Linked DNA regions of Homo sapiens. The protein of the gene in region 1 interacts with the protein of each later gene in a pairwise test. Each region holds a gene or a part of one and is shown in the gene's direction. Other genes may lie near its edges. The genes, in order: CEACAM6, SHC3, MSS51 and HPCAL4.

Region 1 (7,028 bases):
AAAACAGCCATGAGGGAAGGTGGAGCAGCAGTGACAGGAGAGCCTAAGAGAGCCCTCAGACCACGATGCAGATCTCATTCCTGAGAAGGAGAAAGAGAAGGAGGGAAGTTTTACATAGCAGTGCAGTTCTGAGTTTCCCCAAGACCGATGGGGAGTCCTTGAACCCCTCACCCATGAGAGTGAAGCAGGGTCTCACAGACCTGGGCTTGCTTTCTTTCCCCTGGTGGGAGCCCATGGGAAGTGAGTTCTCTGTGCAAAGAACATAGTAAATTCAGAATGCACTAGCCTGGGCCTTCTGTCCATCAAGTCCCTGCCATAGAGCTCCAACAGGCTCTTATTCATGGCTGCCACAATTGAGACACTGAGAAAAAGATGCAAACATAAAAATATAGAAAGTTCTAATGACATGCAAAAATAGCAATCAGACTTTCTCAAATTTTCAAAGCCTTCAAAAATGTCTGAGTGCAGAAAGAACAGGATGAAATTGACAGAAGACTGATCACCAACCTAGAAACGTGGTAAGAGAGAAAAAAAATTGCAACTTTCCCACAAAACTAGTGTATTCCTTGAAGGAACAAGTCAAGCCTACTTCATGTTGACAGCTAGTTCTTGGGGACCCCACTGTAGAATAACATCACCTTCATTCCTTCTCTCTTCTTCCCACAAGGAAGTGCTCCTGTCCTCTCAGCTGTGGCCACCGTCGGCATCACGATTGGAGTGCTGGCCAGGGTGGCTCTGATATAGCAGCCCTGGTGTATTTTCGATATTTCAGGAAGACTGGCAGGTATGATCGCCTTTCCTCTTGCCATGTTTCCTGCAGGGCTGACCACCATGCTTGGGAAAGGAAAAAAACTTCTTCACCTGTATCTGGGACTGGATCTCCTTCTACCGCTAAACTCCTGCTTCTCAGCACTAATTCCTGCAGGTCTCTTCTTCCCTGGTCTTCATGCTCCCTGTACCCCACTGTCTCCTAGATATAATTATCCCCAGCCTCTGCTCATTTGTTTCCTAGAGTCAATACATTGTCAAAGCCTCTTCGTCCTTTTTCAACATCTCTCACTTTTGTCAGTCTCTCCATTCCCATCAACCTCAATAATTGTTCAACATCCTGCTTGACCCCTTGTTGTAAGGTTGGAATCCTTCTTGCATATGACTGCCTCATTACCTTCCTAAAATCTAGTTCACTCACCTACTTAAGGAGCCAAAGGGGGCCAGGCACAGTGGCTTATGCCTGTAATCCCAGCCCCTTGGGAGGCCGAGGTGGGCGGATCATGAGGTCAGGAGATACAGACCATCCTGGATAACACAGTGAAACCCCGTCTCTAGTAAAAATACAAAAAATTATTCAGGCATGGTGGCGAGCACCTGTAGTCCCAGCTACTCGGGAGGCTGAGGCAGGAGAATGGCGTGAACCTGGGAGGTGGAGCTTGCAGTGAGCCGAGATCGTGCCACTGCACTCCAGCCTGGGCGACAGTGCAAGACTCCGTCTCAAAAAAAAAAAAAAAAAAAAGAAGCCAAAGGAACCTGCTCTGGCCTACTAGTTAAGTTCAAATTTCTTCTCTTTACTAATTCTTCTTACTTTCTTTCCCTCTACTTCCCAGTATAATTCCTCCATCTTAATTAGAATCTGACTCTCTACACATCCCTGCCCCTTTACCCCGGATGCACATAGAATTCTTAGTTTCAATGTTACACCTAAAAACAGGGTGATCTCCCCTCCACTACCTGCCCTGTGGACTTACTCACACCCTTCATCACAAGCAACCTCTTATTTCATGGAGAACACAGACTGTGTAGTATTAATATGTGAACTTTGGACACATCCTGCATGTGGCTGAGAACCTTTTCCTGACAATCAATTCATGTGTTCATAACAGATACAGAAATGAAGAAGGCAAGGTCCCTACCCCCAGGGAACATAAAGCCCAAGACAGGAGATAAGACCTGAAAAATAATCATGATACCAAAGTAGAAAGGAGCGAATGCCACAAAAATTCAGATAAATCTGATGGGAAATATAGCTACACATTGGAATCACTCCGAAACATTTTTAAAAACGGATGCTCAAGCCCCAACCATAAATTCTGATCTACTGATCTGGAGTGGGACCCAGGCATTGGTAATTTTTAAGCCTCTCCAGACGCTACTAATGTGTAGCCACGATGGAGGATCCCTGTTCTAATAGGTAGGACTTGGGGCTAAACCCATGGTTTTTAGCTAGGAGGATTAGAATTACCTCTGGAGCTTTTTCAACATACATGGGCCTATACTTTGTTGGCCTAATTCATTAATGGGCTCCACCAAGAACTCAGTAATCTAACTGAGAAACAGAAACTAAAAGGAAAAGCCGCCTTATTTGATATGTTACATTATATGGGAAGCACTGTCAAATGATAAGTGATGCTAAACCTTCTCTAAGTTATATTTATGGTTATGTTATTGATGTGAGTGTTCCAAAAATTATAAGAGATTCCCAGAAATCTAACAGATTATAAGCCATAATGTCATATGCCACAGAAGTAACTAAATGTCTATGGGAGATGCATTCTTTTTTTATTTTTATTTTTATTTATTTTTATTTTTTTTTATTGATCATTCTTGGGTGTTTCTCGCAGAGGGGGATTTGGCAGGGTCATAGGACAATAGTGGAGGGAAGGTCAGCAGATAAACAAGTGAACAAAGAAACAAGTGAACAAAGGTCTCTGGTTTTCCTAGGCAGAGGACCCTGCGGCCTTCCGCAGTGTTTGTGTCCCTGGGTACTTGAGATTAGGGAGTGGTGATGACTCTTAACGAGCATGCTGCCTTCAAGGATCTGTTTAACAAAGCACATCTTGTACCGCCCTTAATCCATTTAACCCTGAGTGGACACAGCACATGTTTCAGAGAGCACAAGTTTGGGGGTAAGGTCACAGTTCAACAGGATCCCAAGGCAGAAGAATTTTTCTTAGTACAGAACAAAATGAAAAGTCTCCCATGTCTACTTCTTTCTACACAGACACGGCAACCATCCGATTTCTCAATCTTTTCCCCACCTTTCCCCCTTTTCTATTCCACAAAACTGCCATTGTCATCATGGCCCGTTCTCAATGAGCTGTTGGGTACACCTCCCAGACGGGGTGGTGGCCAGGCAGAGGGGCTCCTCACTTCCCAGTAGGGGCGGCCGGGCAGAGGCGCCCCTCACCTCCCAGACGGGGCGGCTGGCCGGGCGGGGGGCTGACCCCCCCACCTCCCTCCCGGACGGGGCGGCTGGCCGGGCAGAGGGGCTCCTCACTTCCCAGTAGGGGCGGCCGGGCAGAGGCGCCCCTCACCTGGGAGATGCATTCTTATCATAATGAACTCTCATCAGATGTTTAACCATACTCATTTTCAATCTTTGTCATTCACTGACAATTGTTTTTTGTTTTGTTTTGTTTGGTGGGGGGGTTGTTTTTTGTTTTTGTTTTTGTTTTGAGATGGAGTTTCACTAGTTGCCCAGGCTGAAGTGCAATGGCGTGATTTCGGCTCACCGCAACCTCTGCCTCCTGGGTTCAAGCGATTCTCCTGCCTCAGCCCCCTGCACAGCTGGGATTACAGGCATGCGTCACCATGCCCGGCTAATTTTGTATTTTTAGTAGAGACGGGGTTTCTCCATGGTGATAAGGCTGGTCTCGAACTCCTGACTTCAGGTGATCCACCCGCCTCAGCCTCCCAAAGTGCTCGGATTACAGGCATGAACCACCGCGCCCAGCCCCGACAATTATTTTGATTCTTCCTTCCTTAAAGCATTTGCAATCAGCTACCATCCAAAATTGCTTCTTCATTGAGGATATTTACAGAAAATACTCCGACATGTACTCTTGAATACAAGTTTCTGATAACATTAAAATCATACCATTAGACTATTTAAGAATTTCCAAAATTTTAACAAACTGATAGCTTCATGAAACTGCCAACCAAGAGCAAGCAGAGAATTCATTTCATGAGACTAAAAGATAATAATGAAAATAATATTTTTATGATTTTTTATTTGAAATTTTGTGGATTCTTTGTTTTGTTTCCCAGATTTCAGGAAACATTTTTTCTTTTAAGCTATCTAGAGCTTCAACAATTTTGCGAACAAAAATTGAAACATCTATATTTTCTCCCTACCTGACTGCTCCAGAATTCGGAAATTATTCATGAATATTTATATGTTTATAATAATATCGTTATTTGCACAAAAAATATAGTTATTAATATTAATTGTTATAAAATAATTATTATTGATAAACAATTATTTGATGATCATTATTTAATAATTTATTAATATTTATTAATAAATTAATAATTATTATTTAACGACTAATTGTAATTGTTAATTAATATTAATATTATATAATAAATATAATAGTATAGTTATTTGCTCAATAAAAATCTGCTCCCTTTATAACAGGATACATTTGAAAACACTGGTTATATTACCCAGGCTTTGATTGGGATGTTATATTTGGGAATATACATAGATGAACCCATAGGCACTGCTGGCAAAGTCTGAAGTCGGCCTTGGTTTGGCTTCCTCATGTCAAGAGGTTTCTAAAAGTTTAATCTGAGATTCCTTATAAAAACTTCCTGTAAAACAAACTTGAAAAGACCCCAGGCTGGGCACAGTAGCTCACGTCGATAATCCCAGCACTTTGGGAGGCCGAGGTGGGTGAATCATGAGATCAGGAGTTCAAGACCAGCCTGGCCAACATGGCAAAACCTCGTCTCTGCTAAAAATACAAAAAAAAAAAAAAAAAAAAAGCTAGGTGTGGTGGCGGGCTCCTGTAATCCCAGTTACTCGGGAGGCTGAGGCAGGAGAATCACTTAAACCTGGGAGGTAGAGGCTGCAGTGAGCTGCGCTCCAGCCTGGGAGTGCATACATAGGCCTATACTATTCATGTGCGTACATGGGCCTATACTATTCATGTGCATACATAGGGCTATACATAGGCCTATACTCCTATTCAAGGAGAATCGCTTGAACTTGGGAGGTGGAGGTTGCAGTGAGCTGCACTCCAACCTGGGCAACAGGGCAAGACTCTGTCTCAAAAGGAAAAAAAAAAGACTATGTGGTCACCTGCTACTCTTGTTGCACTTATATAAAGAATGAGGCCAAGTTCGATGAGACTAAACTTATTTGGAAAACAAATATGTCTTACTGGGATTATCTTTGGTAGAAATAAAGATGCCTATGAAGAGAAAAATTATGTTGAAAAAAACTATAGTACACCTGTTATGACATCACAGCTCTGCTTATTGTTTTTTATTTTCATTATCCACCTATAGATTGGACCAGACCCTGAATTCTTCTAGCTCCTCCAATCCCATTTTATCCCATGGAACCACTAAAAACAAGGTCTGCTCTGCTCCTGAAGCCCTATATGCTGGAGATGGACAACTCAATGAAAATTTAAAGGGAAAACCCTCAGGCCTGAGGTGTGTGCCACTCAGAGACTTCACCTAACTAGAGACAGTCAAACTGCAAACCATGGTGAGAAATTGACGACTTCACACTATGGACAGCTTTTCCCAAGATGTCAAAACAAGACTCCTCATCATGATAAGGCTCTTACCCCCTTTTAATTTGTCCTTGCTTATGCCTGCCTCTTTCGCTTGGCAGGATGATGCTGTCATTAGTATTTCACAAGAAGTAGCTTCAGAGGGTAACTTAACAGAGTGTCAGATCTATCTTGTCAATCCCAACGTTTTACATAAAATAAGAGATCCTTTAGTGCACCCAGTGACTGACATTAGCAGCATCTTTAACACAGCCGTGTGTTCAAATGTACAGTGGTCCTTTTCAGAGTTGGACTTCTAGACTCACCTGTTCTCACTCCCTGTTTTAATTCAACCCAGCCATGCAATGCCAAATAATAGAATTGCTCCCTACCAGCTGAACAGGGAGGAGTCTGTGCAGTTTCTGACACTTGTTGTTGAACATGGCTAAATACAATGGGTATCGCTGAGACTAAGTTGTAGAAATTAACAAATGTGCTGCTTGGTTAAAATGGCTACACTCATCTGACTCATTCTTTATTCTATTTTAGTTGGTTTGTATCTTGCCTAAGGTGCGTAGTCCAACTCTTGGTATTACCCTCCTAATAGTCATACTAGTAGTCATACTCCCTGGTGTAGTGTATTCTCTAAAAGCTTTAAATGTCTGCATGCAGCCAGCCATCAAATAGTGAATGGTCTCTCTTTGGCTGGAATTACAAAACTCAGAGAAATGTGTCATCAGGAGAACATCATAACCCATGAAGGATAAAAGCCCCAAATGGTGGTAACTGATAATAGCACTAATGCTTTAAGATTTGGTCACACTCTCACCTAGGTGAGCGCATTGAGCCAGTGGTGCTAAATGCTACATACTCCAACTGAAATGTTAAGGAAGAAGATAGATCCAATTAAAAAAAATTAAAACCAATTTAAAAAAAAAAAGAACACAGGAGATTCCAGTCTACTTGAGTTAGCATAATACAGAAGTCCCCTCTACTTTAACTTTTACAAAAAAGTAACCTGAACTAATCTGATGTTAACCAATGTATTTATTTCTGTGGTTCTGTTTCCTTGTTCCAATTTGACAAAACCCACTGTTCTTGTATTGTATTGCCCAGGGGGAGCTATCACTGTACTTGTAGAGTGGTGCTGCTTTAATTCATAAATCACAAATAAAAGCCAATTAGCTCTATAACTAAATTTGTTGTAATTCTGTCTCTTGATGTGGGTTCACAGCCAGCCACGGCCAGTGGAGTCTCTCAGGCGGCGTCATTCTCACTCCGACCCTCCTGCCTTCCTCTTTCACTTACAAGGGCCCTTCTGAATACACTGAGCTCGCCCAGATTATCCAGAATAACCTCCCATCTCAAGATCCTTAACTTTACTTATTTGCAAAGTATTTTTGCCAAATAATGTAACATGCACATGTTCCAGGGATTAGGATGTGGACATTTTTAGGAGGTCATTATTCTGCCTAACACAAGTAACTTTCATAAACATCACCCACAACAAAAATTTGCTTTGCCTTCCTT
Region 2 (7,028 bases), on another chromosome or scaffold:
AGCCTTGGCCTAGCCTCAGCACACCCATTGGCTAGCTGTGAAGTCACATCGAGGCAGCATCACTGCCTCAGCAGAGGGGGCTCTTCACTTGCACACCCACCCTGGGCTTCCTTCACAGACCCAGGGGCAGTAACTGCAGCCCTATTTTATAAGGAAGGAGTCTCTCTCAGTTCCTTAGGAGGTACAGAGCTTCTATTGTATTGCTTGAATGAAGTTAATTTATAAAGCATTTGCTTATATTTAAAAAGAAAACAAGAGCAATTAATATAAGGCTTGTGGTCCTTCTGCTCAGTTATTTGATCTTGGAGCATTTGTCAAGGAGAGGAGGTCAGGCATGTTCTGCCTGCCAGGCTCCTGCGGTCTTGGGGCAGCAAGGGCCAAAATTTTTGCTAAGGCCATCACAGTGGAGCCATCAAGGTGTCCACCCTGACATTGGCTGGCAGACCCCATGCTGATATGAAGGACTGGAAAACATCCTAGCTGGGTCACAGCAGTGTGTGGTGACAAGCTCAGAAGAGGAGAATATCACCCATAGGAATCCGAAGGAGGAGGTTTCCCATTTGCAGGCAGAAGAGCTTCTTTGTGAAAGGCTGGGTGGCTTGAATAGTGTCACCATCGTAAAAGAAAAGGGGCTCACTTTCTTGTTGCAGGGTCCTCGGACATCTACAGCACGCCAGAAGGGAAACTGCACGTGGCCCCCACGGGAGAAGCACCCACCTACGTCAACACTCAGCAGATCCCACCACAGGCCTGGCCGGCTGCGGTCAGCAGTGCTGAGAGCAGCCCAAGGAAAGACCTCTTTGACATGAGTGGGTTTCTGTTTGTCTCTGGTTTTCTTTTCTTTTGAGGTTGCTTTTTATCCTGCCTTTTATTTGAAATCTGTGTAATTACTGAATTTTCTGATAGTAGGGTTTTGGTTAATGGTGATGATTAGCTGTACTTTTCTGGGTGATGATTGGGTTTGTTTAAGGCTTTAGGATTATAGCCCTCTCTGTAGTCAAGAGACAGAGCAATTTCCCCCTCTTTTTGGAATTGACGTTCCTCTTGAAGATCTGCAAATGTATTGAGACAATATACATACACAAATGTTTATTTATTCATTTAAATAGTAATTGGCTATTATGTGCCAGCTACTGTATTAGTTGCTAAGGATGCAAAGATGAAATGGCATGGCCCGTGTTTCCACGGATCTCTAGGTCTATGAAGCAGACCAACATTTAACATATAGGCAAGAAATTGCAACACACCTCTCTCTTATGAGGGTTTTCTCTCTCTTTCTCCTCTCCTCCCACTTGTGCTCTCATTTTTTTCTCTCCTTTTTTCTCTCTTGCTCACCTTTTACCTCACTCCAAATATTTACTGAACACTTACCATTTGTCAAATACTATTCTACTTGATGGAGATATACAGGAAAACAAAACCAGCAAAGTCTCTACCTCGTGGAGGTATCTATTACCAGGTAGTGGTACATGCTCCTCAGTTATGAAAACTAAACAGGATAAGGAGAGTAATAGGAATCTATTGCAGATAGCATTATAGTGGGATGTGTACCACAGACTTTCTGTTTGTCATATAGACTGAGGAAATTAAATCGTTCATGAACTGATTAATGAAAGTGAAAATTTTTGTTAAAAAATTTTGAAAGAGCATCACAAGCTCACAAGAGCTAAATTTGCTTTTCATATTCCTCGAGAATTTTATAGGCTGAAGAGGGAGGGAATGGAGACTAGTTCTGAATGATTTTCTACCATGTGCTAAACACTTATTTTTAAATTTTTACAGGTAGGTATTACGATAACTACTGTTATCTTTATTTTACAGAGAAGGAAACGAAGAATCCTAGAAGTTAACTAACTTTATCATTTGTGAAAGGCAGCCTTGCTGGTCCAATATCTGTGATTTGTGGTATTTTGTATGAGTGAGGACAGTGTTAAGTGCCTTTATAATTAGGCAGCCTCATGAAAACAACACTGTTTCTCTCCAGCAAATTTGACTTCCCAGACACACTGGACCCCCATTTTGACTTAACAAAAATAATCTAAGCAAGAACTGTAGAATCTTAATGCTTGAAGCCACCTTCAATGCTAGATCACCTAATTCAGTCCCGCCAGTGCCTTTATTTTTAAAAATGTGAAAACAGCTTGAGAAATGTGAAGCCACTTTTTCAAGATGCAAAGCACAGTGGTGGCTCTCCAAGCTTTTGCTGGAGTTGTTATAGTACCTCCAAACTGCAGTTTAATAGTTCCATGTCTGGTTAGACCATTTTTACTGTTTAATATAGTCAATTTACCAATGACTCCTGGACACGGACCCTAAGGAAAGTTAGATTGGCTGGTGTTTGGGATGAAAAAATGAGAACCAGAGCTACCCTTTTCCCACCAGTTAATTTCTCCTCCTGCTTTCAAAACCTAAGGAGGGGAAACAGGATGTGAAAAGAGCCTTAGAAAGGCTGGTGCCTATTGAAAAGTATGGAACTAAATAAAGCCAGCACTCTGTGTTCTTTATTTTGAACCAGTAGATCTAAATATAGCGGTGCTGATGTGATGATGGTGGTGATGATGGTGCTGCTGCTGATGGTAATTTTGATGGTGGTGGTGGTGGTGATGGTGGTGGTGATGATGATGATGGTGATGATGCTGCTGATGGTGGTGGTGTTGATAGTGATGATGATGGTGATGATGATGGTGGTGATGCTGCTGCTGATGGTGCTGGTGGTGGTGATGATGGTGGTGATGATGCTGATGATGGTGCTGGTGGCAAAGGTGGTGGTGGTGATGGTGATAATGGTGGTGAGATGGTGGTGATGCCGATGGTGGTGGTGGTGGTGGTGGCAATGGTGATGGTGATAGTGCTGATGGTGCTGATGGTGGTGATGCTACTGCTGCTGCTGTTACTGCTGCCGCTCCTGTTGCTGCTGGTGACAGTGATGGTGATGATGATGGTTATGCTGGTGACAATGATGGTGATGATGATGATGATGACAATGGGGATGATGGTGATAATGGTGATGATCCTGATGATGCTGATGGTAATGGTGGTGGTGATAATGGTGAGGGGATAGTGATGATAGTGTTGATGGTGGTGATGCTATTGCTGCTGCTGCTGTTGCTGGTAGTGACAGTGATGGTGGTGACAATGATGGTGATGATGATGGTTATGATGGTAACAATGGGGATGATGGTGATAATGGTGATGACGATGGCGACGATGGCGGTGATGCTGATGGTGGTGGTGGTGCCAATAAAAGTGAATGTGGGGATGGTGGCGATGTTGGGGATGATGCTGACGATGTTGATGATGTAGATGATAGCAAAGGTGGTAATGATGTAGAAACAGTATAAAACAAATGACAATTCCAGGTAATCAGGAAAAAAGTCAGATGAAAAAGAACTTCCACAGACATAATTTTTGCCAATGGTTCTAACTTATTTTTATCTCCAAATCTGTCAAAGATTAATAAGCATCAAAAAGAGCTAATTTTAGTTTCATTTACTCACCTCACTTCTGCCCACGCTGTACTAACATCGAACAAGTTTGGCTTATTTTACAGCATCTGTTGACTATACTGAATGAACTGTGTGCTAGGAGCAATGCTGGGCTCTGAGGGTGTAGTTATGCTCAGGAAAGAACCACTCCTGTTCTTGTGCTGCTTATGTTGTATGTATGTGTATGCTTATGGGTAGACAGCGTAGTCTGAAATAACCATCGCACTACCTTCCACTTGCATAGCACTGTGCATTTTTCAGAGTCCTTTCATACACACTACCTTATGTGAAAATCGAACATCGGGATTTAGTTAGACATGCCTGGCTACTTCTTTTGCTGCTGGTATTTCTTGTTAGAGCAGCAGTCTCACCATTCACACATGCCTTGCACTGAGAAGTGTGCTCTGAAGGGGATGAAACCAAGTATGGTCTCAGGCACTCATGTGAGAGCCTCGTTCCACAGGGAAACAAGTGAAGGTTAAGGGAAGGTGGAGCTCCTAGCCTGGGGCAAGTCACACAAGAGGAACCCAACACCCGTCAGCTTTCTCTTTTAAAAATTTGCCTGATGCAAAGATTTTGAAATAAACCTTTGGTGGATTGGGCTCAGGTTTTGCATAAAATCAAAGCTTTGTAGCTTGTCTTTCCCTTTGGTATTGGCAGATTTTTGTTCAGAATTTGTTAAAGAGGCTGGCTGAAGTTCCAGAGAAAGTACGTGGCATGTGATATTCATGGCCTCTTGCAGCATGCAAAAATGAAGTCATTCCAGCTAGCTAGACAAAGGGTGTGCTTGACTCCTTGGCACATAGCACAACTCCCAGCTGTCTTGGGAAAGCAGACTCATCAGAAAGTCATGCCAAAATTTGGGCTGTGCTTTTCAATGCTTGTTATGATGGCTCTTGTTATATTACCAGCCAGTTAGTTGTCTCCATTGGTTTTTGTTTTCCCCTTCTGGAGGAGTTGCCTTTGCATTTCCATCTCTCTCACTGTATTTTTTTTTTTTTTTTTTTATCATTTGCTCTTCTTGGGATTGACTTGTTGCTGGTCAATATTGTTGATGACAGAACCTTTTGAAGATGCTCTCAAGAACCAGCCCTTGGGGCCCGTGTTAAGCAAGGCAGCCTCCGTGGAGTGCATCAGCCCTGTGTCACCTAGAGCCCCAGATGCCAAGATGCTGGAGGAACTGCAAGCCGAGACTTGGTACCAAGGAGAGATGAGCAGGAAGGAGGCAGAGGGGCTGCTGGAGAAAGACGGAGACTTCCTGGTCAGGAAGAGCACCACCAACCCGGGCTCCTTTGTCCTCACGGGCATGCACAATGGCCAGGCCAAGCACCTGCTGCTCGTGGACCCAGAAGGCACGGTGAGCACCCAGTGGGGGTGGGGCCGGACCTGCCAGTGGGTGCAGACCTGCCTTAAACAGTCTCCACTTTGTCAAATGCCCTCCACATTCCCACCTCTATCCACAAGTGCCTACTGAGTCCTCCAGGGGAACGCAGGGACAGACAACTCCTGTCATCAGGCCAGAGCCAGGAGCCAGGAGCCAGTGGTCAGGGCCCCACACAAGTTTTAAAACTTTTAGAATTATGGCCTAGGCTGAAAGCCTTGACTTTTATGTCCTTTAAAGTAAATAAATACAGAAACTGAGAGCATTTTCCTTACAAACACATTTCTAGTAGACAAGGAAGTACAGGCTCCTAGGCTTTTAATATTTATCTTGAATGCTTATCTCGAAAAGTTGAATCACTGAGGATTTTGTTCTAAGGCTGTAAAATGTGATGATCAGTAAATGAAACCCCCATTGCTAAGTCTCTTGTTTTCCCGTTTAGAGAAGTAACTCCTACTGATGTTGGCCATCCCTGGCACTACAGCTGTATCTGAATAATCCCGTAGGTTTGGCTGAATTTTTCATCTTCCCGTCAAGAAAGACATTCATCTTTACCTGGGGCATAGTCCAAGAATTGCTAAGTTTAATAAATGCAGTTAAATCAACCTAACCATTGAGTGAAATTCCAGGATTGTTTAAAACCTTTTATCCAGTGAAAACAACAAAGCAGGGTAGAGTTATTTAATAGGAGTTAAGAACATTGCATTTTCTGATTGACAGGGAGGGATGAAGCCTTTGTCTCAGTTGGACTGGAACACAATTAAACTGCATGTGTCGGGGGTGGGGGTGTTACCCAAGACAGTTTATTACCTCAGGTGCCAAGACTCAGTTGCCTGAATACCCCAGCTCCTGGCACTCTGAACAATTCCCCTTTCTGTCTCTGCAGAAGCAGCCACTTCCCACTTCCAGCCAGTAGCTAGTTCCTCTTTCCCTTCCGCGGAGACAGCCACTTCCTCATGAATGTAACCTATCTCCTTCCAATCCACCTTCTTTTTTTTTTTTTTTAACATATATGTACTTCTGAGAAAACATATTTTGTGTTTGTGCCTTTTAGAAATTTGCAAATTAGCCAGGCATGGTGGCGACTGCCTGTAGTCCCAGCTACTCAGGAGGCAGAGGTGGGAGGATTGCTTGAGCCCCGTAGGTCAAGGCTGCCCTGAACTGTGATCGCAACTACTCCACTCCAGCCTGGGTGATGGAGAAAGACTCTGTTTCAAAAAAAGAAAAAAGAAGTTTGCAAACATGTTATTGTTCCACAAATCCCATTTTGTTTCTTCCTTTTCCACCACTGTATATGTTGTTGAGATCTGTCCATGGTGGTTTCTGTTTATCAGATCATTACTGTGGTGGGCTGCCTGGGGCCCGTCACGTATGCAGTCCACATGTCACTTACTGAGCTCTCTTGAGAAGGATGACTAAGCTGCTACAAACTCTCACGCATGTTTTTCTCTGTACCCGGGGACGGTATCTCTGGGACAGGAGCCAAGAGTGGCGTTTTGGTCACAGGGTACACGTACATTGAATTTCCCTAGGGCTTGCATTTGCTTTCAGAATGGCTGAGCTACTAAGGCGCACACCAGCAACATCCTTGCTCTTCCTTGAGAGAGTCTCTAGGTTTGCTAGTTTGTGGGAGTAGGGAGAAAGGGAATACCTCATTGTTTGATTTGTAATTCTTTGGTTGCACTTCATTAGTAAATTAGCAGATTCTTCCTGTAAATTTTATGTTCTTATCTTTTCTCCATGTTTTTCTTTTGACTTTCAGATTGGGCTTTCTTGTTGAGGTTTTCAGCAACAGAATTTTCACATGTATTCTCTTGCTTTTTTCATCTATCTGATAATTTTGTCTGTGATACTCTTCATCAAATAGAAGTCTTTCATGGGATGCATCCGAATCCATCAGGTTTCCCCCTTTGTGCTTGATGGTTTTGACTTTTAAAGTTTTTCTCCCCCACAAATCACAAATATACTGGATTTGAATATATATTTTCTTTTGTTAGCTTTATAGTTTTATCTTTCACATGTAGACTTTAATTCCAACTGAAGGTACTTTTGAATATGAAATGAGATAGAGACCCAATACACACACACACACACACACACACACACACACACACACATCTATATATATATATATATATTTTGTTTGTTTGTTTTTTGCTTGT
Region 3 (6,855 bases), on another chromosome or scaffold:
CAAATATTTAATATATAGACCTATGATGTACAGGTACGACATGTATAGGTTACCTAGATGTTATGAGAAATTTTAGTTTATTGTGAGTACTCAAGTTGCTTAGAGAGCCACCAGGGTGATTTGCTGCTGGCTTTCTATCATTTTTATGTTTTAATGCAAAGGAAATTTTAAAATGTTCTGGAAGTGTTTTTGATTAAGCAATGCAGCCTAGAAGCAATGGTTCTGTTCAATCATTCAGATGTTAGTGGAAGCATAAAAGTCAAGACTGCATGTTGAAACCTTTCTTTTGATAGTTACTGAACTGCTTGGTTAAACTAAATGGAACCATGTGCTAATTTTTCACAATTATTGACCTGTATTGATTGCCACTGTAGTTTGGTATTTCCCTTTACTTTGGTGGCCTGCTTCCCTCATGCCCTGGAATACAACTCAGAGCTCCAGGCAGCGGAACCATCTATTGTTTTGTTTGCCAGAAAGTGCACCCTGTATGGTCTCCTGTCTAAGTTGGAAATATTATGCATGTGCAGGACTATTCGAGTATTTTATAAACAGTAGCACACAATAAATTCCATGCATGGGCCGCTGCTCCTATCTCTGTGTTGGGTTTTATTTGGAAGATGCAATCTGATTTGTCCTTTTGATGCAAATCAGAAAATCCTGTTACTAGAGCTGGGATGTCCTCCGGAGATTATCTCGTGGATAGTTCATGGTAATTTGATTAATTAAATTCTTTATAAATTTTGCCTTAAAAAAAACTTTTGTTATATACTTGTTTTACATGAGCATTAGTAACTGAGCACTAGAGGACTTTGAATGCCTACTGTAGGCCTCCTAAGTCTAATATTTAAGATCACTGTTTATTGTCTTTTAATTGAAAGAAAATATGTTATTGTCTAGAATTTTGTTATAGTGGTATTGGGAATTTACTGGGTGTTCTAACAATAAGAAAAATATTAGTGATAATTGCATTTTCCTATCATTCCTTTCTTCTTTGTCATAATCACAATAAGTATAGGATTTTGCACATTGAGGGATATTAGGATATTGCTCAAAATTATATAATCATACAATAACTTGAATTATAGTTCTCAACAATAATTACAATGAGATATATTATAAAACACTAAGTCAAAATATAGGCAGGGCACAGTGGCTCATGCCTGTAATCCAAACACTTTGGGAGGCTGAGACAGAGGATTGCTTGAGCCTAGGAGCTCATGGTTGCAGGCTGTGTTGAGCTATGATTGTACCACTGTACTCCAGCCTGGGTGACAGAGTGAGACCCCATCCCTTAAAAACAAACAAAATATATGTAAATATATTAGGCAAGCGCACACACACACACACACACACACACACACACACACACACACACACATGCTTGCCTAATTCCAGGTAACAAACAGAACTTCTCAAATTGTTTCTTTTTTCTTTTTCTTTTGCTTTTTTTTTTTTTTTTTTGAGACGGAATCTCTGTCTGTCACCCAGGCTGGAATGCAGTGGCATGCTCTTGGCTCACTGCAACCTCCGCCTCCTGGGTTCAAGCAATTCTCCTGCCTCGGCCTCCCAAGTACCTGGGACTACAGGTGCCCACCACCACGCCTGGCTAATTTTTGTATTTTTAGTAGAGATGGGGTTTCACCATGTTGGCCAGGCTGGTCTCAAACTCCTGACCTCGTGATCCGCCCACCTCAGCCTCCCAAAGTGCTGGGATTTCAGGCGTCAGCCACTGCACCCGGCCACAAATTGTTAATTATTATAACTCTCTGCTTGCCAAAATATTAACTTACAAAGCAGTCCATGAGTTGGCTCTAAAGTTATTATGCATTGCATACCTTAAAGATTGTTGTCTATGTTGTTTATGAAAGTTGCATACCTTAAAGATTGTTGTCGATGTTGTTTTATGAAAGCTATTCAGTAAAGAGTTTATCTGGCTAAAATAGACCCAATAGAAAAATTAAAAAGTAAGTAAGAGTTTAACTAGTATATTAGGTGCCAGGAACTTTCCTAGCCCTTAGGTACATAACTAGCATTATATAGTGTTTGTGGGAATCATGGGTGAGCATTAAGTAGTATTAGCAAAAAAACTATGGATTGATGGTAAAAATTAAGAGGAAAATAAGAGAAAGGAACCAAACTCAGGAAAAGCAAAATACCTGAAGAGTGATAAAGTATCACATAGTGCCTCACAGACCACTTCCTACATGTTGAATAGGAACCTCTTTCTAGTCTTTCTTCATAATTCATTTCACAGCATACCATTTATTAAGATTTTTTAAATGCAACTCATGATGAATACAAATTGTGAAAAGTTCAGACTTCGTAACTTTAAATGTTTACCAGAGCAAGTCATAGTGATAGTAAAATATAAGTATTCAACATCAAAGTTTTTCTATATTACTATTCTCCTTTATATTCATTGACAACTTCTGAATTAGAAAAGTCAATCTCTGATGTCTTGTATCTTCTGCAGTTCAGCCATTATTAACAGAACTCAAAACATTTGAGGTTCTCAGATAAATTTTGAAGCCTGTTAAATTTGAAGTTGGCCTGAAACTTTTGCACAAAGTGAATTACCCCTATTTTATTTAGGGTTTTTGCCTATTGCAACTGATTTTCCTTTATCCACAGCTATTCTACATAATGTTATGCAGTGTTTGGTTGAATCCTTAACACTTTTCTTCCACCTTCCCTGCATGTAGTTTGTACTTTTTACAGTTTGGGGTTCCTGTGTGGATTTGATTTGCCACATTCCGGGACCTCATTGCGAGTGATTCTGTTCCCCAGTTTGATGATGTTCAAAGAAGCAGGTAAGTGAGAGCTGGGGTCAGATATAAGCAGAAAGTCAGAACTTTTTTATTTAAAAATTTTAAAAAAATTTTTTGAGGGTAAGAAAGATCTTGCAGTCTTTTAGGACCACTGCCCTAACAACTTCAGATAGGCTAGCTGTAAGTAGAAAGAAGCTAGGACTGTGGAATTGAATTTCCTGGATCAGCTGCAATTACAAGGAGGATAAGAGAATGGTTGAGCTGATTCTTTTCTATTTTCTTTTCCTAGAAATAGTATGTATTTTTAGTCATTAACTAGTATTTTGGTTTTGTTTAATATCCCAGAAGCATTTATTCCTCTCTTAATACAGGTAAAGTGCTCCTGATGACTCTCTCACTCAGAGAGTTATCTTACCCTTCTTTCAGGGAAAGTGAATTTTACAAGTTAATTCTGCATGTTTCCCCTACAACTGATTTCATTCTGTACCATTAAATGGCCATTTATTTTCTCCCTTCTACTTAATCCAAGATTGGACATTGTTGAGTTTTGTTTGAACAATGTTTGTTATGCTGAAAAAGGACACCAGGCCTGGGGGAACTCATCCTGTGTCTAGATCAACAAACAGAACTCCAGAGGGTCCTCTGGTTCCTCCCACTTGGTTGGAAAGGTGCTTACCCTTTCCAATCAAATATTGACTTCTGCACTAATCCAAAGGGTTTTCTTCTGAAGCTGTAAACTGAGAACAGAAATATTGCCTTGAGTGAGAGAAGTCTAGGAAGCAGCAGGTTTCATTTTTTGTCAGCCTGCCTGGCCTTTACTTGGCTAACACTTGGGAGTGTTGACAGTCCTGAGCCCCCTTGGCAGAGAACAAAGGTTAGAGAGAAGCCCTCAGGCAGGGGGACAGATCCCTCTTTGCCTCATTAGGGAGAATTCAGCCTTGTCTGTCTGGTTGGCAGGGCACACTTAATCACTGAGACTCAGCATTTCAGCAGTTTGCAAAGGAAAGTGATATGAAGGGACAGCTGCAAGTAAGCCACAACCTAGATCTGAAGAGATCAAGCACTCATTTCACTTGGAGGAAAGAGAGAAGGAAGGAAGCTGAGGACTTAGCAGGGTAAGTTTTTTTTTCCGTCAACCTGTCTGCTTGCTTAGTTTATAATTGAGTAAAGTATTTATCACCCCAGGCAGTGTTAATCACTGATTAAACAGCTGAATGTGGCCATAATTACAGTGTCCTTAATGTATTTCTCCTTCTCTTTTCCTACCCCCTTATAAGGATCTCCAATGACCAGTTTCAGTCTTCCTTCTCCCTACCTCTCCAAAGACGTTTTGCATTTTTTGGTGACTTACAGAAAATTAGATGAGCACTCCTTATCTGGAGATAGTGAAAATATGACTGTAGTTTAGGTGAAACTTGGGACTCTTGGTGGTAAAGAAGAAGATGGGAAACCTAGGTCTAGGAATAGATTAATATTTTGTCTTGAATTTGGACATGAAGGATAAAAGTTTTTCTAGGCAATCAAGATCATGTCTCCTCTCCAGTTCTTGGTGTTGGTGTTCTCTCTCTTATACTGGGACTAAATTAGAGCCTAAGTCACTGGGGATGGCTAGAAAAAAATGAAAGGGATTCCCTTTCTAAGTGGAGAGCATTCTAGACTCTGGAAAGTTCAAAGAGCTTACTGCAATTCTTTCCAGCTTCTCCTGTGAGTCCCCTGTTTTTTCCTTTGTTTCTCTCAGTTTATAACCTGTGAACAGGGAGTAGCCTGGGGCTCTTTACAGGAGATTTAGAACCAGGGAAGCTGTGTCTGGGCCTGGGGTATATAAACTCAAACATGAACCTGATGATGTATATAGATGCAGATCAAAGACCTGGCTTCTCACCCACCTTCTTTCTTTTCTGCCAGAAAGCTAACTCATTTGTATCATGAACATTGTGCTCTAGACACAGAGGAGACTGTGACATTAGGGATTTTTACCACCACTCCTCTTCCTCAAACTGTGTGATCCTTTTGCTTTCTGACCAGTTCAGCCAACTCCCAGATTGCCAAGAGCTAATCTTCCTTTAGAGGAAGACCTCACCTTGGAAATGCGGAAAAGTAAAGCAGTACCTTTCTGACCTTAAGTGGCTTGCTTCCATTGCAGCAAAAAGGCTTATGTTTTAACTTCAGGGAGATATCTATTATAAATTCTGGGATTTAAGACCCTAGAGTTGTCTCAAATCACACTTTCCTTCCATACCTATTTAAAAAAAAAAAAGTCATTCTTTCAAGGTTTAAGAAAGTGGTGTCTTGGCCGGGCGCCGTGGCTCATGCCTGTAATCCCAGCACTTTGGGAGGTCGAGGTGGGTGGATCACGAGGTCAGGAGTTCGAGACCAGCCTGACCAACATGGTGAAACCCCATCTCTACTAAAAATACAAAAATTAGCTGGGCATGGTGGCGCGAGCCTGTAATCCCAGCTACTCAGGAGGCTGAGGCAGGAGAATCACTTGAACCCGGGAGGTGGAGGTTGCAGTGAGCCAAGATCGCACCACTGCACTCCAGCCTGGGTGACAGAGTGAGACTCTGTCTCAAAGAAAGAAAGAAAAAGAAAATGTTATCTTGCCTGAGGCAGGTGGGTAGAGTAGATAAATGCTTTTTGTAGAATGGCAGTGATTCTGAAAATGCAATGAGAATGTGAGGTGATTAAAAGTGGAGGACAGAATGAGGTTAGTTGTTGGAAATTGGGCCCTAAAGTGTGAAGGGCAATTCCATTTACTCTTTTGGTAAAAGGACATGACCCTTAAACCCTAAGATAATCTAATATCATTAGGTCCAATTTCTTCATTGAAGGTAATATATAGGATATGGTATACAGATGAGCTTGACTATTTCTGTTCTGTGGACTGAAACCATCCATTCACCCATGGGATAAGGGGAGACATTAAGAGGGTGGATGGAAACATAAGGATGAGGAGATAGAAAGTACAAAGGAAAATACAAATTTGTTCCTCCATTAACCTGAGGACAGGTTTTTAAGAGTCATGTTGTAAGATATGGATATGAGCTGGATAATTCTGGGAGCTTTTTGTTTATTTTTGCCACCTGCATACACCTCAGCTGCATGATGATTCTGAGGTTTTTCCTAACAGATCTGATCTAGAAGGATCAAATGTCAGATCATTTTTGTAACAAAACATGATCCCTGGTTTGAACTTTAACAGTTTCCTCATTCACACTGCCAGCGTTTTTAATCCTCTGTTATTTCTCTGTACCTGAAGACAATCTGGGGATTAATAACTTTTTAGCCTCTCAATCTCTATGAATACCTTCCTTCCTTTCTTTTTTAATCGAAGTGAAAATCATATAACATAAAATTAATAATTTTAAAGTGAGCAATTAAATGGCATTTAGTGTATTCACGGTATTGTTCAACCATCAATTTTGTCTTGTTCCAAAACATTTTTATCACCCCAAAAGAAGACCCCATAACCATTAAGCAGTTACTCCCCATTTTCCCTTCCACCCAGCCCTTAGCAACTACCAATCTGCTTTCTGTCTCTGGGTTTACCTATTCTGGATATTTCATAGAAATGGCATCATACAACATGTATACAACATTTTGTGTCTGGCTTTCTTCACTTAGTATAATGTTTTTTGAAGTTCCTCTACATTGTAGCGTGTATCAGTATTTCATTTCTTTTTATAGCTGAATAATATACATCTTCATATGTATATTTATATCCCAATTTGTTTATCCATTTATCCATTGATGGACCTTTGGGTTGTTTCTACCTTTTAGCTGTTGCGAATAGTGCTGCTATGAACATTCACATATAAGTATTTGTTTGAGTATCTGTTTTTAAATATTTTGGGCACATACCTAAGAATGAAATTTCTGGTTATATAGTAATATTATGTTAACTTTTTGGGGAACTGCCGTACTGTTTTCTATGGTGGTGGCACCATTTTACATTCTCACCTGCAGTGTACGAGGGTTCAAATTACTCCATATCCTCATCAACACTTGTCATTTTCTGTTTTTTTTTTTTATAATAGCCATACTAGTGGGTATGAAGTAATATCTCACTGTGGTTCTGATTTGCATT
Region 4 (7,028 bases), on another chromosome or scaffold:
ACAACAGGACTTGATGGCAAGTTAGACCTAGGGCAAAGGGAAGGGAAAAAATGAAGGTAACTAAGATTGTGTTCCCCACACCCCGGGGATGAGGGAGAGAAGGAAGGGGCAACAGAGACAGTCTGACCATCTCTGGTTGGGAGCGAGTCTGGCTGTAGACTTGCTGTCTCAGAGGTGCTGGTGGACACCCCTAGGGTGGCTATCTCCTGGGTGTCAGAGATTGTGGCCCCAGATGGTTCCACTGCGGCCAAAAGGGAGATCAGAGCTCTGATTTTCCCAGAGGGCAGATGTGGGTGGAGAAGGTCTGTGCTGAACAAGAGTAGCCATGATTTGGAGACGGTGGCCCAGGCAGGTAGCACGGATTCAGCCTGAGTGCTCATCTGGGCCCTCCCACTGACCTGCTGTGTAACCCTGAGCCAGTTTTCTCCTATCTCTCAATTTCCATTTTCACTGAAATAAGGGGATGATCTTAAAGGGCACGGCCAGTTTTGACCTTCTTTTCTTAATTTTTTATTTACTTATTTTTTTTTTGAGACAGGGTCTTGCTCTGTTGCCCAGGCTCGAGTGCAGTGGCTCAATCACGGCTCACTGCAGCCTCAACCTCCTGGGCTCAAGTGATCCTCCCACCTCAGCTTCTGAGCAGCTGGGACTACAGGCACATGCTACCATGTCTGGCTAATTTTTAAATTTTATGTAGAAACAGGGTTTCCTTATCTTGCCCAGGCTCAGCTTTGACCTTCTGATGATCTAGAGGGAATGAGGAGAAATAAAGGAGGAGGCATAGTCTGGGTCTGAGACCCAATAAAAGCAGGGAACAGGAAGGACCCTAGGAGACAGAGAATTGTGGAGAAGGCAGCACAGAGCAGGGAGGAGAAAAGGGGTATAAGGTGAGAGCCACACAGACACTGTGACACACACAGAGAGACGTGTGCACTCTGACAGATTTGCAGCCTCAGACATTGACATGCTCCCACACACAGACCCAGCCCCTCATGCTGACTCTCAGGCACATCCTACGGAAGACAGCTGGAGAGGCTGTGCCTCCCCCCATCAGACATCTCTGCCTGACTTCTCCAGCTTCCTTGACTATACCCTGAGCCTTGAGAGTCCTTTGGATTTGGGAGAGGGGTGAGGCCTGCCTCCTTTTGCCTATGGGTGTTCCAGAGGCATCCTTGCTCTGGCCTCAGTGTAGCCATTTTCCGCCCAGCCTCAGGTTCCTGAAGATGGCATGCTCCCCCTCCCTGGCTTTTCCTGAGGGCATACAATTCCTCATCCTCTGGGAGTGGGGAAGGATGTTGCTACCTGCACTGCTCCTTGGTCTTCCTTATGGCCCAGTGGAGGAATCTGAGGCCCAGAGAGGATCTGTAACTAGCCTGAGGTCAGCCCAGCAAAGGGGAGTGGGAAGGAATGGACCAACCTCAGATTTGCTATTTAGTGTTTTCCCAGTTGTAAGAATTAGAAGCCCACTGGCAGACATCGGGCTATGGGAGTGGAATTCCTTCTGCCAGCCCAAGGGCTTCCTTTTCCAGAGTATCTTGAGGACAGGCTACCTGGGGTGGGAGCCTGACCCTCTTCCAAAGAGACTCTAGGCAGGTCAGAGGCACCTCCCAAGCCATGTCCTGGGAAACCCAGACTCTGCAGGGACATTCCTCCCAGGGAGGTCAGAGAGGAGGGTCCACTCTGCCTTCAAGGTCTGGCCACACTTCCTGAGGAGGGCCTGTACCTCTTCAAACACTTCCCCTGGCACAGCCCACTTACGGGCTCACATTCCCACTGGGGAATAACTCTTGATCCTTCCCAAACCTGCTTCTCAGCAACAACACTTCTATCCACTGAGGCTCAAATCTGAGCCTCTGCCTCAACTCCTCTGTTCCTCTTACTCCCACATCCAATCAACTGCAAAGTCCTGCCAGTGCCCTTCTTAACGTCTCAGCCCATCCACGTCTCTCCACGACCCTTACTCTGGCAGCATTGTCTCTCACCTGAACCGTGTAGCAGGCCCCTCCCTGCTCTACCTACCTGCCCCCACCAAAGGTCATCTTGCATGCTGTGGCCAAAGGAAAAATTCTTTTTTTTCTTTTTTGAGACAGGGCCTTTCTTTATCGCCCAGGCTGTAGTACAGTGGTGCCATCTCAGCTCACTGCAACCCCTGCCTCCCAGGCTCAAGTGATCCTCCCATCTTAGCCTCCCAAGTATCTGGGACTACAGGCATGCACCACCACACTCAGTGAATTTTTTTTTTTTTTTTTTTTTGAGACGGAGTCTCACTCTGTCGCCCAGGCTGGAGTGCAGTGGAGCGATCTCGGCTCACCGCAAGCTCCGCCTCTGGGGTTGATGCCATTCTCCTGCCTCAGCCTCCCAAGTAGCTGGGACTACTGGCGCCCGCCACCATGCCTGGCTAATTTTTTGTATTTTTAGTAGAGATGGGGTTTCACTGTGTTAGCCAGGATGGTCTTGATCTCCTGACCTCGTGATCCACCTGCCTCAGCCTCTCAAAGTGCTGGGATTACAGGCGTGAGCCACTGCGCCCGGCCAATATATTTTTTTTTTTTTTGAGGTGGAGTCTCACTGTGTCACCCAGGTTGGAGTGCAGTGGCGCGATCTCAGCTCACTGCATGCTCTCCCTCCTGGGTTGACGCCATTCTCCTGCCTCAGCCTCCCGAGTAGCTGGGACTACAGGCGCCTGCCACGACGCCCAGCTAATTTTTTTGTATTTGTAGTAGAGACAGGGTTTCACCGTGTTAGCCAGGATGGTCTTGATCACCTGACTTCGTGATCCACCCACCTTGGCCTCCCAAAGTGCTGGGATTACAGGTGTGAGCCACCGTGCCCGGCCGCGCCCAGCCAAATTTTTAAATTTTTTGTAGAGACTAGGTGTCACTGTATTGCCTAGGCTGGTCTCAAACTCCTGGCCTCAAGCTGTCCTCTCATCTCAGCCTCCCAAGGTACTGGGATTATAGGCATGAAATACGGTGCCCAGCCTGGAAAAATTTTAAAACACATACCTTTTCTTGGGTCCCCAGTGACTCGTTCAAGACTGGGTATATCATAAGCATTCTGTAAATATTGTGGAATGAATGCAATCTTCCCAGCCCTTGTTTTAAAAAATCCCAGGAGCGTCTGTTCCCTCCAATTTCTTGGCATGGATTGGAGGCCCTTTGTAACCAACCATCTGCCTCTTTGACCCAGTTACAAGTTATTGAAGGTTGGCTCATGTCTGCTTCATCTCCATCACTGGCACAGGGCCTAGCACACAGTCAGTCTCAATAAATGCTCAGGGAATGAATGGATTAATGAAAAGCCAAATGTCAGTAGAGGATTTCTATTTGTATAGAGGAAAGAGGGAGAGAAGCTCCCTGCTGGGGTGGCCCAAGAAAGCCTTGAGGAAGAAATTGGGAGACAGTGCCAAGGGGACACACAAGGAACCTACCTTGGGTCCCTTCTCAGGACAGAAGCCTGCCAAGGAGGGTGGGGGCTGACTTCAGAAAGCCCTAAATGGCAAGGAGAGGAGTCAAGGCCTTAGTCTGTGGGCAGGGGAGCCATGAAAGGTGTGAGCAGGAGGGGAGAGGATGAAGACTGTGGCGTGCTGCACGGTCAGTGAGGAGGAGAGCTGAGACCTGGAAGGCGGGAGACCCCCGGGGCTAGGAGAAGAAACCTACCTGAATGCAGGTGTTGTGAGGGGAGAGGAGGCCCCATTATGGGGGAGTGTCATGAGGGGAAGGAACCTGCAACCCCGCCCTGTGTGTGGCAGGGGAGGGGGCAGCTGTGGCTGAGGCAGGGCCTTTCCCTGGACCCAGTCGGAGGAATCCCTCTGTCCCACAGGCCCCGCCATGGGGAAGACCAACAGCAAGCTGGCCCCCGAGGTGCTGGAGGACCTTGTTCAGAACACTGAGTTCAGCGAGCAGGAGCTGAAGCAGTGGTACAAGGGCTTCCTGAAGGACTGCCCCAGCGGCATCCTCAACCTGGAGGAGTTTCAGCAGCTCTACATCAAGGTGGGCGGCCGGCACCTGGTGTGAGGGAGCCAAGTACCCGGGTTGGGGGAGGCGAGGAACCGGGGGTGAGGGAGGCAGGGCACCCTGGGATGAGAAGAGGCGAGGCACCCGGGGTGGGAGGGGAGGCGAGGCACCCGGGGTGCGGGGGAGGTGAGGCACCCGGGGTGGCGGGGGCAAGGCACCCGGGGTGGGAGGAGGCGAGGCACCCGGGGTGCAGGGGAGGTTCCCTGAGATGGGGGCGGGGTGGGCGGGGCTGTCGCTGCGCCCCAACCCACCGCACCCCCCTCAGTTCTTCCCCTACGGCGACGCCTCCAAGTTCGCGCAGCACGCTTTCCGCACCTTCGACAAGAACGGCGACGGCACCATCGACTTCCGGGAGTTCATCTGCGCCCTGTCGGTCACCTCCCGCGGCAGCTTCGAGCAGAAGCTCAACTGGGCCTTTGAGATGTACGACCTGGACGGCGACGGGCGCATCACGCGCCTGGAGATGCTGGAGATCATCGAGGTGCGGGGCCGCGCGGGCGCTGCTGTTCCCGAGGCCAGCGCTTCGCCATCCCCGCCCCTGCCTCCGCGCTGCTCTCGGGCTTCGGGGCCTCCCTGCTGCTCCCCAGCCTGCGATCCCGCCTCCTACCACCCCGCTACAGGCCCGGGCTAAATGCTTTACCCGACACTCGACGGGGCGGAGGGGTTGGTTACTGTCCCAAACCCCATTTGGCAGAGGAGGAAACGGCCGGGTTCCTGATTCCAATCCAGGGAGTCTGACCTCATAGCTGATGTTTTCAACTCATTCTGTCAACAGGCAGGGATTGAGCGCCTGCCAGTTCTTGCTTTCATGGGGCATTCCTTCTAGTGAGAAATTTTTTTAAAAAATAAATGAATGAAGACATGCGGGGTCAGGCCGTAGGTGCTATGAGGAAGATACACTAAGCAAAGTGCAGGGAGAGCGCGTGATGGAGAAGTTACTTTATATAAGATGGAAAGTTAGCAGCAGCCTGAATGGGGTGAGGCCTTTACTGCAAGATGCCTGGGGGAAAGCGTTCCATGCTGAGGGGCAATTAAGGCAGGTCGGCCTTTCTCTGCAGAGTTCAAGGAGGGGCCAGGAGGCCCGGTGGTGGGAGAGCCATGAGAGGGAGAGAGTGATAGGAAGGTGGTCATACGGGGAGCCAGGAGCCCCATCAGTAAGGTCTCCACGGAGTTGGGCTTCTGGCATGTTTCATCCACATAAATATTATTTAGTCTAAATAAAAAATTAGTTGAGGGCTGGGCGTGGTGGCTCACGCCTGTAATCCTAGCACTTTGGGAGGGTGAGGCCGGTGGATTACCTGAGGTAATGAGTTCGAGACCAACCCGGTCAACATGGTGAAACCCCGTCTCTACTAAAAATACAAAAATTAGCGGGACGTGTTGGTGCATGCCTGTAATCCCAGCTACTCAGGAGGCTGAAGCAGGAAAATCACTTGAACCCAGGAGGCAGAGGTTGCAGTAAGCCGAGATCGCGCCATTGCACTCCATCCTGGGCAACAAGATCGAAACTCTGTTTCAAAAAAAAAAAGAGTTGCTCATTAAATATCCAGTCTTAATGACCACATATACCTTCCAGTATCCTCACCAACCCCCAGTGTTCTCCCTGCCAGATCCCTTTCCTTCACCCGCTGCTTCTCGGGGCCCCTTGTGGGTGTTCACACCTCCCTCCTCCTTCCCTCACCAGGCAATCTACAAGATGGTGGGCACCGTGATCATGATGCGCATGAACCAGGACGGGCTCACGCCCCAGCAGCGTGTGGACAAGATCTTCAAGAAGATGGACCAGGATAAGGACGACCAGATTACATTGGAGGAGTTCAAGGAGGCAGCCAAGAGTGACCCATCCATTGTGTTGCTGCTGCAGTGTGACATGCAGAAGTAGAAGCTGGTGAGGGGCAGGGTCCCTGGCCAGAAGGGGCATGGCCACCTCCCAACCTGATGACCTCTCTGGCTGGCCTCCCAGGAGGAGGGACACTCCAGCCCCCCTCTCTGGCCCACCCAGTCCTCTGCCCAAGCCCTTCCTCCCCTCCATCAAGATCTTTGAGGGACCACCTCACCCTGCAAAAGAGACAGGTCCTCCAGTACCCTGTCTTCTAGCCCCACCTCCCACTTGGCCAGAACCAATGTCCATTGGGCATAGGGGAGTTGGCTTTTGCCCCAGGAGGTGAGGTTAAGGAGTTGGGGGCCTGGGGTTCTGGTTAGGAATTCTCTTGATCCTGGGATTATGCTTTATAGGATGTGGTCCCACAGGCCTGTCACAGGGCCAAATTGGGTCTGTCCATTCCTGAGGCTCCAGATCCCATAAAGGGGGTCTCTTCCCCATCCCTTCTACTCTACCTGGCCCTTCCAGCCCCAGCCTTTGGAGCGTTCATTCAGTCCTTTCTTCAGCTAATGATTACTGAGCACCTGTTTGGTGCTAAGGATATGGTCATTTACAAGACACATCTTGTGCCCTCTGGAAGCTCATAGGGTTGTGAGGCAAACTTCCAGCCGTCAGGGTCTCAGCTAAGCAGAAGGTGCTGGAAGGCTGGTTAGTCTGGGAGGAGCTATTTCATCTTCCAGCTCAGCTCCACACAAAGCTGCAGAAGGACGAAATGAAAAGCATTTGGAAGTTTAGGAGCCACGTGAGTGAAAGTTTTAAGAAAAATGAAATTTATGTCATACTTATTTTTTTAGTACCCTTTAAAGGAGCTACAGTCATTTTATTATTTCAGGAGGTTAAAATATACTCTATATTACTTGGTTTCTTATAAAATGATTAAATGAATAGAGAAAATATTAATTTTCAAGGGGAAAAAACCTGAGAAGAAAGGGAGAAAAGACCATGAAATTTACCAGATAACACTTTTTAAGACTAAGTCCTGAGCTGCCACTCTCAGCAGTTTTTGCTGCTTCAGCTCTTCCTTTTTATTACCTTTTTCAATTCAACAAGCAACTTTCTGCTACATACTTACTCCGGTTGGGTGCTGACTTCAGGGACAGGAAAAAGCAAGGTTTGCAAAGAGTGAAACT

What was found.
Region 2: the proteins of CEACAM6 (region 1) and SHC3 interact in binary tests that used the Homo sapiens proteins (3 or more experiments, as listed by UniProt).
Region 3: the proteins of CEACAM6 (region 1) and MSS51 interact in binary tests that used the Homo sapiens proteins (3 or more experiments, as listed by UniProt).
Region 4: the proteins of CEACAM6 (region 1) and HPCAL4 interact in binary tests that used the Homo sapiens proteins (3 or more experiments, as listed by UniProt).

Annotation. Positions count from the first base shown.
Region 1 is NC_000019.10:41,765,516-41,772,543, forward strand, and holds the end of CEACAM6 (cell adhesion molecule CEACAM6 preproprotein), read left to right. Parts: intron 1-667; coding exon 668-744; 3' UTR 745-784; intron 785-5,286; coding exon of another isoform or gene 5,287-5,303; 3' UTR 5,304-6,696; downstream 6,697-7,028. UniProt on the Homo sapiens protein: Cell surface glycoprotein that plays a role in cell adhesion and tumor progression. Intercellular adhesion occurs in a calcium- and fibronectin-independent manner.
Region 2 is NC_000009.12:89,035,807-89,042,834, reverse strand, and holds part of SHC3 (SHC-transforming protein 3), read left to right. Parts: intron 1-650; coding exon 651-809; intron 810-4,546; coding exon 4,547-4,842; intron 4,843-7,028. UniProt on the Homo sapiens protein: Signaling adapter that couples activated growth factor receptors to signaling pathway in neurons. Involved in the signal transduction pathways of neurotrophin-activated Trk receptors in cortical neurons.
Region 3 is NC_000010.11:73,430,541-73,437,395, reverse strand, and holds the start of MSS51 (putative protein MSS51 homolog, mitochondrial), read left to right. Parts: upstream 1-3,834; 5' UTR 3,835-3,883; exon of another isoform or gene 3,884-6,855.
Region 4 is NC_000001.11:39,681,406-39,688,433, reverse strand, and holds part of HPCAL4 (hippocalcin-like protein 4), read left to right. Parts: intron 1-3,822; 5' UTR 3,823-3,830; coding exon 3,831-3,992; intron 3,993-4,281; coding exon 4,282-4,497; intron 4,498-5,700; coding exon 5,701-5,898; 3' UTR 5,899-7,028. UniProt on the Homo sapiens protein: May be involved in the calcium-dependent regulation of rhodopsin phosphorylation.